Homo sapiens: one gene and its partners. The protein of the gene in region 3 purifies or fractionates together with the protein of the main gene of each other region. This does not show direct contact. Each region holds a gene or a part of one and is shown on either strand. Other genes may lie near its edges.

The links. The genes of interacting proteins can lie anywhere in the genome.
Region 1: the proteins of SLC10A4 (region 3) and SLC2A6 purify together in Homo sapiens (affinity purification with mass spectrometry; one large-scale study listed by BioGRID and IntAct). This does not show direct contact.
Region 2: the proteins of SLC10A4 (region 3) and PCBD2 purify together in Homo sapiens (affinity purification with mass spectrometry; one large-scale study listed by BioGRID and IntAct). This does not show direct contact.
Region 4: the proteins of SLC10A4 (region 3) and LMAN2 purify together in Homo sapiens (affinity purification with mass spectrometry; one large-scale study listed by BioGRID and IntAct). This does not show direct contact.

The regions. Positions count from the first base shown.
Region 1 is NC_000009.12:133,470,594-133,473,346, reverse strand, and holds the end of SLC2A6 (solute carrier family 2, facilitated glucose transporter member 6), read left to right. Parts: intron 1-96; coding exon 97-242; intron 243-1,170; coding exon 1,171-1,326; 3' UTR 1,327-2,253; downstream 2,254-2,753. UniProt on the Homo sapiens protein: Probable sugar transporter that acts as a regulator of glycolysis in macrophages. Does not transport glucose.
Region 2 is NC_000005.10:134,960,138-134,963,144, reverse strand, and holds the end of PCBD2 (pterin-4-alpha-carbinolamine dehydratase 2), read right to left. Parts: intron 2,560-3,007; coding exon 2,464-2,559; 3' UTR 501-2,463; downstream 1-500.
Region 3 is NC_000004.12:48,486,343-48,490,026, reverse strand, and holds the end of SLC10A4 (sodium/bile acid cotransporter 4), read right to left. Parts: intron 1,601-3,684; coding exon 1,088-1,600; 3' UTR 501-1,087; downstream 1-500. UniProt on the Homo sapiens protein: Transporter for bile acids.
Region 4 is NC_000005.10:177,334,669-177,338,168, forward strand, and holds part of LMAN2 (vesicular integral-membrane protein VIP36 precursor), read right to left. Parts: intron 3,118-3,500; coding exon 3,038-3,117; intron 2,857-3,037; coding exon 2,695-2,856; intron 2,583-2,694; coding exon 2,468-2,582; intron 1-2,467. UniProt on the Homo sapiens protein: Plays a role as an intracellular lectin in the early secretory pathway. Interacts with N-acetyl-D-galactosamine and high-mannose type glycans and may also bind to O-linked glycans.

The sequences.
Region 1 (2,753 bases), on a different chromosome or scaffold from region 3:
TGGCTGGAGAGGGGGGTCTCCAGCAGCTCAGCGGAGACAGACACAGCCGCCTCCAGTCACCCCACAGGGCCTGAACCTGCCTCCTCCTCCGAGCAGGCTACGCCGTGGGCTGGGGTCCCATCACCTGGCTGCTCATGTCTGAGGTCCTGCCCCTGCGTGCCCGTGGCGTGGCCTCAGGGCTCTGCGTGCTGGCCAGCTGGCTCACCGCCTTCGTCCTCACCAAGTCCTTCCTGCCAGTGGTGGTGAGTGTTCAGCCCCAGGCCCCAGGCCCCTAGGCCCTCTCTGACTGGCCAGGACCCTTCTCAGTGCCAGGGGCTGTGCCAAGGCCTGCTGTCAGGACCCTAACTCTCAGTGACCCTAGGAGATGAGCACACACCCCCTGAACTCAGAGACCCCAGAGTGGTCACGTGATAGCCTAGCAAACGCTCTTCATTATAAGAAACAGGAACGGGCGTAGGCAACTGTTCTGGGAAGTCAGGTTACCTCCTGGGCCAGGGCAGGACATGGCCCAGGACCCTGCCAGGGGCCCCGGAAGCCACCTCCCCACCGTGCCTCATCTCCCGCCCTCCTGGGCGCTGGGTCTCAGCAGCAGCCACACTCCCCCCTCAACCCCACCCACTCCCCCTGCCTCCTGGTTCAAAACTACGGGCCCTGTGACCAGCCAGAATCTGTGAGGCCCAGAGTAAGTTCCCATGAGGGAGAAGCTGGCTAGGGCAGCCTAGGCCAGCGCCTAAGCTGTCCCTGCAGTGGTCAGGGCAGGGGGGTTGGGGGAGGGCAGGCAACCCAGAGTGAGTCCATCAGCCTAGAGGGTCCAAGAAGAACCTGCGTGCCCACCAGGCTGCAGGGCGGGCCTCCTGCAGGCCGCGGCATGGAACAGCTGGGATGCCAGCGCTGGGTAGGGGGTGTGGAGGGGGTACCTGAGCTGACGCCAGAGGGCCCAGCCCCTGAGGAAGGCCGAGGGGCAGACGGGATGCAGACTTCAAGGGCTACTTCGGATTTGTCCTGGGGACAGTGGGGGAGCCCTGGTGTGGGGGGGCGGTCTCTGAACACAGGAAGGACCAGATGAAGGCCCCACAGGGCTGGTCACTACCAGCAGCGCCCACGAGCTCCTCTGGGGCAGGAGGACCCTGGAGCTTCTCCCTGTGACCCGGCCCCGCTCTTCACCCGCAGAGCACCTTCGGCCTCCAGGTGCCTTTCTTCTTCTTCGCGGCCATCTGCTTGGTGAGCCTGGTGTTCACAGGCTGCTGTGTGCCCGAGACCAAGGGACGGTCCCTGGAGCAGATCGAGTCCTTCTTCCGCACGGGGAGAAGGTCCTTCTTGCGCTAGGTCAAGGTCCCCGCCTGGAGGGGGCCAAACCCCCAGTGGCTGGGCCTCTGTGTTGGCTACAAACCTGCACCCTGGGACCAAGAGGCAGCAGTCATCCCTGCCACCAGCCAGAGCACAGGAAGAGCAGTGTGATGGGGCCTCAGCAGCGGGTGCCCCTGGCTCGGGACAGGTAGCACTGCTGTCCAGCCACAGCCCCAGCCCAGGCAGCCCACAGTGCTGCACGTAGCCATGGGCCGCAGGAGTGCATACAACCCTGCATCCAGGGACACGGCCCTGCTGGGTGACCTCAGGCCTAGTCCCTTTCCCTTGCGTGAAGGACACGCCCCACAGAAGGCTACGGGGAGGACTGAGAGGACAGGGCTGGAGGCAGCCAAGTAACGTAGTCATATCATCGCGCTCTGATCTGGTGGCATCTGGCTGTGCAAGGAAGACCCGGCTTTGCCCTCACAAGTCTTATGGGCACCACAGGGAACATCCTGGACTTAAAAAGCCAGGGCAGGCCGGGCACAGTGGCTCACGCCTGTAATCCCAGCACTTTGGGAGGCCAAAGCAGGTGGATTACCCAAGGCCAGGAGTTCAAGACCAGCCTGGCCAACATGGTGAAACCCCGTCTCTACTAAAAAATACAAAAAAGCTGGGTGTGGTGGCACACACCCGTAGTTCCAGCTACTTGGGAGGCTGAGGCAGCATTGCTTGAACCCGGGAGGTGGAGGCTGCAATGAGCTGAGATCATGCCATTGCACTCCAGCCTGGGCAACGAGAGTGAAACTCCGTCCCCACCCCCTGCCAAAAAAAAAAAAAAAAAAGCCAGGGCAAAGGACCTGGCGTGGCCACTTCCTCCTGCCCCAGCCCAACCTCTGGGAACAGGCAGCTCCTATCTGCAAACTGTGTTCACCCTTTTGTAAAAATAAAGGAACTGGACCTGTAGTCCTAGCGAGGAAAGAGTGGGGTCTACTCCAGGAGCCCCCACAGCAGCCAGGCTAGACCCGAACCAGCCAAGGTTGCCAGGGCCACTGACTGCTGATCCATAGCAAAAGCAGGGCAGGGAAAAGGCTGCAGTGAGGGGAAGCCCACTGCGAGGCCCACCCTTAACAGGCTCTTTCTAGCTGTGTGACCTTGGGCAGGTCACTTTCCTTGTCTGGGATGCTGGGGGCAGCCTCGGGACAGGACCTGTAGTTATTTCCTGGGCCAGCGGCTCCTGCCTGGCTTCCACACTCACACACAGGCACCAAGGCAGAAGGGAGCAGAGGGCAGGCACGCGAGCCACGGCCACGCTTTATTGCTTAAGACGCACACAGAACACAGAGGAACAAACAAGGAGGAAAGGGCGCCACACACAGCCCAGACCAGGCAGGAGCGGCCCAGCCGCCGGAAGAGACGTTCCTTGCAAGGCAGGGCCCCTGCTGGACAGCACGCCCCCTGGGCGA
Region 2 (3,007 bases), on a different chromosome or scaffold from region 3:
TCTCTGGCCCCTAAAGAGAGGTGGGTTTACAAAGATGATCCATGTTAAATTCCACTACCATGATGCTTCAAGGGACTAACAAATGCTTCATGGATGGATATACCTGCATCATAATCTCGTTAGTAGTACATTCCTGAATTCCTTCAAAAAACACTCTTATTACAATTTTTAAATAATAGATTACTTGATATTCCTTTTTACATCTGTCAGTGACACATGGAGTAAGTAGAGCTCACTACTGATTAACACCCTTCTAGCTTCTAGCTTCAGTGGCCGTAGACCCTCAGTTCAGGAGTCAAAACATGCAAATGATGGGGGGAAAATGACCCTTAGTTCCTCCTTAACTCAGTAAGTCAAATAATGACTTGGTGAGTTGGCTGCTGTAACAGTAAATCTTATATTGCCACACATTCCTGGAAGCCACAGACAAGACACTTGTCCTCTCCTTCAACTCTCTGTTGAAAGAGAAAAGTAAAGAAAACACACCAAGATAGCTCATCCAATTTTTGTGACTTGTTTAATCTAATTAATTATATAAGTAGTAACGGCAGCTAAAATCCAAATCAACTTTAGCTTCATAAGAATTGTTATAGGCCAGGCGCAGTGGCTCACGCCTGTAATCCCAGCACTTTGGGGGGTCAAGGCAGGAAGATCATTTGAGCCCAGGCATTCAAGACCAGCCTGGGCAACATAGTGAGACTCCATCTTGTATAATTATTAAAAATAAATAAATAAAAATTTTAAAATAATTGTTATGACACAGTGGCTCACACCTGTAATCCCAACATTTTGAGAGGCCAAGGCAGGAGGATTACTCGAGCCCAGAAGTTCTAGACCAGCCATGGCAACATAGTAAGACCCTGTCTCCACAAAAAAGTTTTAAAAATAAGCCAGGTGTGGTGATGCATGCCTGTAACCGCTGCTACTCAGGAGGCTGAGGTGAGAGGATCACTTGAGCCTGAGAAGTCAAGACTACAGTGAGCCATGGTCGCACCACTACACTACTGCCTGGGCAACAGAATGAGACCCCGTGTCAAACACACACACACACACACACACACACACACACACAAACTGTTATACTGGCTGGGGGCAATGGCTCACACCTGTAATCCTTGGACTTTGGGAGGCAGAGGTGGGAGGCTTGCTTGAGCCCAAGAGTTCAAGGCCAGCCTGGGCAAGATGGGAGACCCCATCTCTACAAAAAATTTAAAAATTAGTCAGGCGTGGTGGCACTTGCCTATAGTCCCAGCTACTCTGGAGGCTGAGGAGGGAGAACTGCTTGAGCCCAGGAGGTTAAGGCTGCAATAAACCGTGATCCTGCCACTGCACTCCAGCCTGGGCAGCAGAGCGAGACCCCGTCTCAAACAAAACAAAACAAAAGAAGAATTGTTATTTAAAGTTAAAACTCACTATCTGTCGAGTTCCTAATTCTTTTTCCACCTTACAACTATTCTCCAAAACAATGCATTTGTAGTCACCAGAATTGCTTGAATTTCTGGGTTATAAAATGTGTGAATACTCCCCATCCCAATTTCTTGAATTTAAGAATGCCACTTCTGGCCAAGCGCGGTGGCTCATGCCTGTGATCCCAACACTTTCGGAGGTGGAGGCAGGTGGATCACGAGGTCAGTAGATCGAGACCATCCTGGCCAACATAATGAAACCCCATCTCTACTAAAAATACAAAAATTAGCTAGGCGCAGTGGCACGTGCCTATAGTCCCAGCTACTCGGGAGGCTGTGGCAGGAGAATCATTTGAACCTGGGAGGCAGAGGTTGCAGTGAGCCGAGATCCCGCCACTGCACTCCAGCCTGGTGACAGAGCAAGACTCCGTCTCAAAAAAAAAAAAAAGCCACTTCTCTTTCTGAATATTATTAATATAAGTAACTGGGTTGGTTTATCTTAGGTATATGATTAGATAGCATGAAAAATACCTCAGGTTCCAGTTTAAATCATTGCGTATTTAAGCACTGATTTTACCAAATGTAATATATAAAGGCAAACAATTTACACAACTTAAATTGTTATTTTTCTTTTTTCTTTGCTTCTAGATATGATGCCTTAAGAACAATTCAACAGCCAGGCATGGTGGCTCATGCCTGTAATCCCAGCACTTTGGGAGGCTGAGGCAGGCGGATCACGAGGTCAGGAGTTCGAGACCAGCCTGACCAACGTGGTAAAACCCTGTCTATACTAAAAATACAAAAATTAGCCAGGCGTGGTGACACGTGCTTGTAATCCCAGCTACTCAGGAGGCTGAGGCAGGAGAATCACCTGAACCTGGGAGGCGGAGGTTACAGTGAGCCGAGATCATACCACTGCACTCTGGCCTGGGCGACAGAGCAACACTCTGTCTTAAAAAAAAGAGAAAAAGAACAACTCTATTTGTTCACATAAATTTCCTTCAACATACATTGCAGCTAAGATGTGTACAAGATTTTACATGTATTTTGGAAGAAATCACACAGAAGCAGCTGCTTTTTCAATAAACTTGGCCAGCTTCACATCTTTTTTGGTCAGTTCACCACAGTCATGTGAGGTGAGAGTTATCTGGACCTAAGAAAAAGAAAAGCAGTTTTTAAAACTCTGAGCAGCAAATCATGGTTATTTTCCTTTGGCAGTTCAGAAATCAGTCTATTATTCAACATTCATATTTGAGAATTAGGGGGATTAAATGATTTAGAAAATACTACATTATGAATAAGCAAAACATTTCCAAAACCCAGCGAACTCCAGGGGCATAGTCTACATTAGGCCTGGCTCAACAGCCACCTTGAAATAAAAAGTTCTCTTCCATGAAGAGGCAATGCAGCTGCCAGAATCTCAAATCTTGTTTCTTTAAATAAAAAGAGAGACTGAGGTTCCAATTGAACTCTCGTTACTTTAATTACATCAACTATTTTCAGGCCACTGAGAAAAACCAAGCTATCAAATGTAATATCTTAGCAGCAACGTTTAAAAAGCACATTTTGGCTGGGCATGGTGGCTCACACCTGTAATCTCA
Region 3 (3,684 bases):
AACCAAGGCGCCCGAGGTGAGGAGGATTTCAATGAGAGAAACTCATCACCGGCATCAGCTGAGCCGGCTTCTCCCGGTGCCCTGATTGTTCCAGGTGCCTGCGCATCCCCCCCACCCCCGCTCCCTCACCGGGAAGCCGAGGCCAGGCCGGGTGCCTCTGGCTAAGTGAGCGAAAGTGCCAAGGTTTGGGAACTGTTCTGGGTCTATTACCCGTTAACTCAGATGATAAGTTTATTCTCAGAGCTGCTCTAAGAGGCTACCCACTGAGCCCCCTCGGCGAGTGCATGGAGAACCACCCAGGGATCTTCATCTAGGCGAATTGTTTTCTCCCCTGGAGCGTGTCCCTTCCCCCAGTCCCAGTGGTGACCGGGAGGTACCGTTTTGTTCTGCTCCAGAGCGGTTCTGAAAAATTTCCCAACCAAATCATTCCTACAAAAGATAAATTGATTTGGGGTGTGTTTACATAAATGCAGAAGACCAGTCGAAAAGAACATGGCTTGTCCACTAGAAAAATGTTGATTATTCATTAATAAGTAGATACCAGATCAAGTAATCAAATACATTAATGTAACTTTTCTCTGATACTGGTTTGACAAATACTATATTTCCTTATTTAACTGACCTGTTTTGGAATTCTTCTGAATACAGGTCAAAATTCAACATTGTGAGGAATTTTAAGTAGAGCAAGCACACTTTTTTTTTTACAACAATTACATTAAACTCAATTATGCTTTACAAAGATAGCTTGTTTTTCCTCATAGTGCGCCAAAATTCTACATTTCCAAGACCCTGTTTTCTAATAGATTCTGTATTTGCAACAGTCATAGAAATTGGTGATGGTAAAAACTAAAAACCACATTTAATTCAGGCTTCACGTTAGCCATTCCAGGTGCAAATTATATTACAGCATTGATTTGTAATTTGTGACAACGTTTGGTTAATACACCAGTGAACCTTAAAAAGATCAGAATTGTTACATGTATGATGTGAACCAGTGTTATCTTTTATGTTAACCATGTGCACTACCACAGGCTATAAATATGAAGCAATATTTCAGCAAGATAGAAGCTCCTGTGTATCTCCACATTTAGAGAGAAGTCTGAGCGGTTTCCATCATTATTATATTTTCTGCTTTCACTGTGCCATAGGAAGTGTCTGCCATTTCCTCTTCTTTTAGTTTTTTATAAGAAATATCTGTATCTTCATCTTCATCTAGAGGATCTCGCTTGTGCAACATTTCACTTCCATACATTTTATAGATTAAAACAAAAATCCCCGCTTCTGCAGACTGGAAAAGTGCATACAGCAAAGGAAACATGTACATGCTTCCTATGAATTGCGGTGGAAAGGCCAGTTTTAGAATGGCTGTACAGAGCTGCACATTCTGACTACCTGTTTCCAGACATACAGTCCTCTTGCAGTTGGGTGGAAGATGGAAGAGAGTAGCTAAACCATAACCTGAAGCGTAGCCTGCCAAAGGCATAAAAATTGCTATCACATAAACAGCTGCAGGGATACTTGCCAGCAGTTCAGGTCCTAACATAGTGCCGGTCATTATGAAAAGGACCACCAGAGTCACTAGCAGAGACCACAGGGAAACCTAGTAATAGAAAATTACAATGAGATGGTTGAAGATGAACTCAGGCGAGAGAATCCTAAGCTCACGGAAGAAAACACCCATCTAGTATGCTCTCCAACACAAAATGGAGACCTTTGACAGAATATTTCTGAAGATGGGCAGGCCACCTCTTCAGGAAGCATCCAGAGCCACATTGGGCAGCTCTGATTGTTTGGAGGCCTGTCCTTATGTCCAGGGACAATTTGCCTTCTATAACCTCTAGCCATTGAGTTGGATATAGGCTCTCAGGAGCGACAGAGACCAGCTCTTCAAAAACAAAAAACAAACAAAAAAACCCAGCTTTTCTGGCCAGGCGCGGTGGCTCACACCTGTAATCCCAGCACTTTGGGAGGCTAAGGTGGGTGGATCATGAGGTCAGGAGTTGAAGACCAGGCTGGCCAAGATGGTGAAACACTGTCTCTACTAAAAATACAAAAATTAGCCAGGTGTGATGGTGAATGCCTGTAATCCCAGCTACTCGGGATGCTGAGGCAGAGAATTGCTTGAACCTGGGAGGTGGAGGTTGCAGTGAGCAGAGATCGCGCCACTGCACTCCAGCCTGGGTGACAGAGCAACACTCCATTTCACCAAAAAAAAAAAAAAAAAAAAAAAAAAAAAAAGCTCTTCAAAAAAAAATAGCCTTCAAAAGCTTTTTTCCTGAAAAACAGCTCTTCAAAAGCTTAAAAACTGGTTATCAGGGGAAGGCTACTCTTCTTCAGGCAGATCATCCCCAAACTTAAACCTCCATCACATAACTTTGTTTTGGTATCCTGACTGTTCTGAGAATGTGTTTCATATGTGAATGTGCCTCTTAAAAACAGGGCATTTAGAACTGAACCTAATACCCCAGGTATGGTCTGATCATCAGAGCAGACAAGTGGATGTTTACTTTCCCTGAACTGAACCCCGTGTTTTCCATAAGAAATTAGTTCTCATTTTACATGAGTTAAAACTTGTGAAACTTGATTAAAATGTCTGAAGCTCAGTGTGTGATCTTTTTAACCCTCAAAATATACTGCAGAGGATTGCTTGCAATATTGAAACAATTACCTACTCTTAGATTATGTAAGAGAGAAAAATGTAAATAAATATGTGAAGAATTCTTTGCAATTTGGCAACTTTCCCCTTTTTTATTTGTTCATGAGAAACCTCCCATCTATAAGTCTGTAATGATGCTTACGTATTATTACAATAGATGGATTTCGGATACAGTACAACTGACTTCTGTATAAAACGTGTCATCTTGATGTTCTGACTGGTACATTTCACTCATTCAAATAAAACAGTCTGTATGAATTGTAAGGCGGAAATCTAAAAATTCCTCTCCTCGTTCTCCTTCATATTGGTAGTTAACTTATTTTTTTTTAATGAGGAGTGGGCAGGGAAAGGAAACTAGAGCCAGAGAGAACAGCTTAAATGTTGCTTCTGGTTCCCTGGATAGCTGGGATATCCCTTTTGCAGTCTTCGGGAATGGCGTAACTCTACACTCTTAAAAAATTATTTAAAATTTATCTGAGCTGGTCACAAATTCTACCCTAGAGGATGCTGCAATAATTATTATATAAGGTACAGATACTACAGATGCATAATTGGCAGAAACCAGGCTATTACATGTAAAAGCATACCATTTCAAAGTATGTCACATTGAAAGCGCTGACAAACAGTCTGATTTCTTCATTTTGAAATATTGGCTCCAAAGTCCCTTAGAACTATTTTAAATCATTTGGGCAAGCATTGACATTGAATGCTCATTTTGAAGTGTTTGCAAAGGTGTAACAATTATATAAACCGTTTCTTAATAGTGTGTTAATTAAAGAATAGGGCTAGGTTAACCTTAAATTCAAAGGTAGCTAATCTTATGTCTATTATATTTAAATATTAAATATATTAATTTATTAATATATTTATTTTAAATATATTTCTTGTTTTGGGTGTGTAAATAGGTCATTTGATTGACTTTCTCTTAGACTTCCTAAGGTTTTATAGTAAATGCCATCACATTAATAGCATTAGCTTAATGATTAAGATTAACAAGTTCTTAATGCATCTCAAGAGTATCTATGAGT
Region 4 (3,500 bases), on a different chromosome or scaffold from region 3:
CTCTTTGAGGCTCATGTTCCGCACATGTAGAGGAGTGATGATCTCCATCTGTGTGGTTGCCATGGCAAGTACATGAGAAGGGTCTACACCACACAGAAGATGGCCTGCCTGCAGAATAAGTGCTCAAAAACAGACCCGGGAAAGACCAACAGTCGCTGTGTGACTGGCTGAGAAGGCTGAGGTCCCAAGGGCAGGAGCCACCAGACATTCTTGCCACAGAGACCCACATACAGGCTGCAGGGGAACAACTCGGCAACCAGCTAAGGGCCTGAGCCTAACGCAGGTCAGCAGCTGTGCCTGAGGAGACTGGGGAAAGGCTCTGTCCAATGGCATGCACAGGGAAGAGCCCTGGCTTGACGCTGATGGATCACCCAATTGTAGAGATGAGGAGGCTGAGGCTCAAAGCCGACACGTGGGTCCTGGTCAGCCTGGGACTGGAATCTGAGGAAAGGCCTTGTTGAAGGGAGCAGGAATCTCTGGAGCCAAGGGGGGACCTAATGAGCAAGAGCTCGGCCAGGCACACAGTGTGAGAGCCGAGCATGCACAGCCCTTGGAGACGGCGAGCGGCCCTGCAGGACAAGGACCGGCCCTGGAGTCAGGCCCCAGTTCCCATCTGGGCTCTGCTGCTTCCTGCTCGTATCTTAGGAAAAATCCTTTCAGTTTTCAAACTCCCAATGGTTGAGTAAAAAGGGAACGAGATGGCCATCTGCCTAAAAATACATCAGGTGACATCACCCGTAAGGTGCCTGGCACTGATGACCCCTGACCAGTGGTCAGACACGGCTCCCCTCATGGTGCCTCCTCCACTCTGTGCTGGGCTCTCCCAACAGCTGTGAGAGCTGCCACCGGCCACAGCACTGGTGCTGCTCTGCTCCTATCAAGAACCCTCCAAAGACAAGGGCTGAAACAGTGTGATGAAGTTCCAGGCAACCCGGGGCAGGAGGGAAACCAGCCAGGCGCGAGCTGGAAATGATGAAAGCTGGTTGGCAGGAAGGGTGCTTACCAGACCTCTCTCCTCTGCTGGGTATGTGACTGAAAAACCCCCAAACAATGGATGTTCTGGGGTCTGAGCGGACCCAAGCACTTCCATGCTGAGAGAGGAGGCTCCTGGGCAGTGGGCAGACTACAGGCCCTGGAATGGGTCATCCTGAGGATAAACCGCCCATGTCAGGTCCCCCGTGTCACGTGCCAGTTCTGGTCAGGAGCTGGCCCTGGGCCTGGCACCTGCTCAGGGCCCCAAAGAGAAACCGAGAACCACAGCCAAGGGCCACCACGGCCTGGTGACCAGTGAGGCCTGAGCAGGTTAGAGGCACCCCAGTGCTCGCTGAGCACCTGCCCTGGGCCAAACAGCCATTTATAGAGCTTACAATTGAGCAGGAGGGCCAGAGACAATAAAATTAATTACTCGGTAGACTCAAAGATGGTAAATATTATGAAGAAAAATAAAGCCAGCAAAGATGCTGGGGAGTGGGCTGGGGACACAGGAGGGGGCACGACATTCCACGAGGGCATCAGGGAAGGCCGCACTGAGGAGGTAACATCTGAGCAAGGCCCTAGGAGACAAGGGTGAAACAGCCGGGGCAGGAGGGCACAGGCGCATCCAGGCAGCAGCTGGAAGCCACAGTAGGCAGGGGGAGCAGTGAGCAGGGAGCCAGAGGTGGCAGGGCTGGCACAGAGGCCCTGGCGCCCCCTGCAGAGCTCTGCGCAGAGCAGCAGGAGGCCTCACACGGGCTGAAGGCGATTACTGAAGGCGATTACACGGCTGCTGTGCTCACGAGAGACTGTTGGGGGCTGGTGAAGGAGGGGACCACTTGGGAGACTCCTGTGAGAGACACTGGTGGCCTGAAGCCGCCAGGTAGTCAGGGAGGGGAGGGAAGTGGTGAGACGTGCTGTGAAAATAAAGCCACAGGGACTGTTGATGGACCAGAGGTGCCATGTGAGAGAAAGAAGGGTCCGGAAAGACAGCAAGCAAATAGAGGGGCACAGGTGCCACTGACATCCCGATGGGCAAGATGTGGCCTCAGCTGTGGGCACAAGGGCTGAGCAGGTCCAGAGCGGTCTGGGCTGGAGATAAATCTGGGAATCTACATTGCCCAAATCTAACTGACCCGCTGCCTCCTGTTGATGGGGAAGGTTGCCAAGGGACCGTTCAAGGCCTGAGGCCCGGACAGGCCATTTACAGAAGAAAGGAGGAGGAGGAACACAGCCAGGTGAGCTCAGAAACCACAGGAACTGAGGCCCGGACAGGCCATTTACAGAAGAAAGGAGGAGGAGGAACACAGCCAGGTGAGCCCAGAAACCACAGGAACTGAGGCCCGGACAGGCCATTTACAGAAGAAAGGAGGAGGAGGAACACAGCCAGGTGAGCTCAGAAACCACATGAAGGCAGGCAATCAACTGCATGGAAAGCTCCCAGTCCCTCAGGGTGAGCTGGGCTGGGAACCAACGCCTGGCCCGGCCCACTCACCAGACAGGTCGCCGGTGCCGGCGGAGGCCCCGAAGTAGTAGCCGGTGGGCAGGCGCACTCCCGTGATGTCAATGCAGTTCTTCCACTCGTTCTTGTCCTCCAGGTCGGTCATCACCTGCAGGGCCCAGCACGCTAAGCACCTCGCAGGACAGCAGCCTGCCCTCCTGAGCCTCTGTGGGACCAGCACAGGGCCACCAGCTGCCACCCCCACCGCCTAGCCTGCTCACCGTCAGACGGCCCCGGGAGTAGCGCACAGCCAGGAAGGTGTCGTGATCGCGGTTGCGGAAGTCAGCCGTGCAGCCCGCCAGCTCGGTCCAGCGCCCATCCTTGCTGTGGTCGTAGGACAGGGAGCCATTGTTCACCATCACCGAGATGTACGGGAACACGCGCTGGGACCAAGACATCGGTTACTCCACAAGCAGCCCAGCCTGTGGGGCGAGCAGGGGCACCCACCACCCCAATCCCTGGAGGCTCCTCTTGTGCTGGGACCATGGAAGTCCCAGGGCCCCCTCCTCTAGCCGACTGCCCAGTCCTTCCTTTCCTGCTCAGCAGGATAGAGCAGGGGCCTACCTCAGTGGTCTCATCATTGGGGTAGGTGTCCAGGAAGATGGCTAAGCCGTGGAAGTTATCTTTGCTTCCAAACACAGGCCCTAGAATTATAAGCAGATGCTCTCAGAATGGGAGAAACAGGAGCCGTCCCATGGGTACCTAAAAGGCAAGCAATGCCAACATGGGTGGGGGCAAGAGAGCCCAACCCACTGGCCATTCACCGAGAGAGAAGGGATCGTGAAAGGAGAAAGCTGAGGCTTTCTCCTCAGAAGTGGGGGGTCTAGGCATATGACACAGAGGACTCAAGTTTGAAGGCTGAACTGTGAGGGGACTGAGGCAGATGTCAGGTGTCAAGGGGGTACCTGGCCTACAAAAAACAGTGAGCCACAGGACAGCCCTACCCAGGAGGCTCTACCCTCTATACTAGGGGCAGCAAACATTCTGTGAAGAGCCACCAAGGAAACACCTCAGGGTCTGTGGGCCA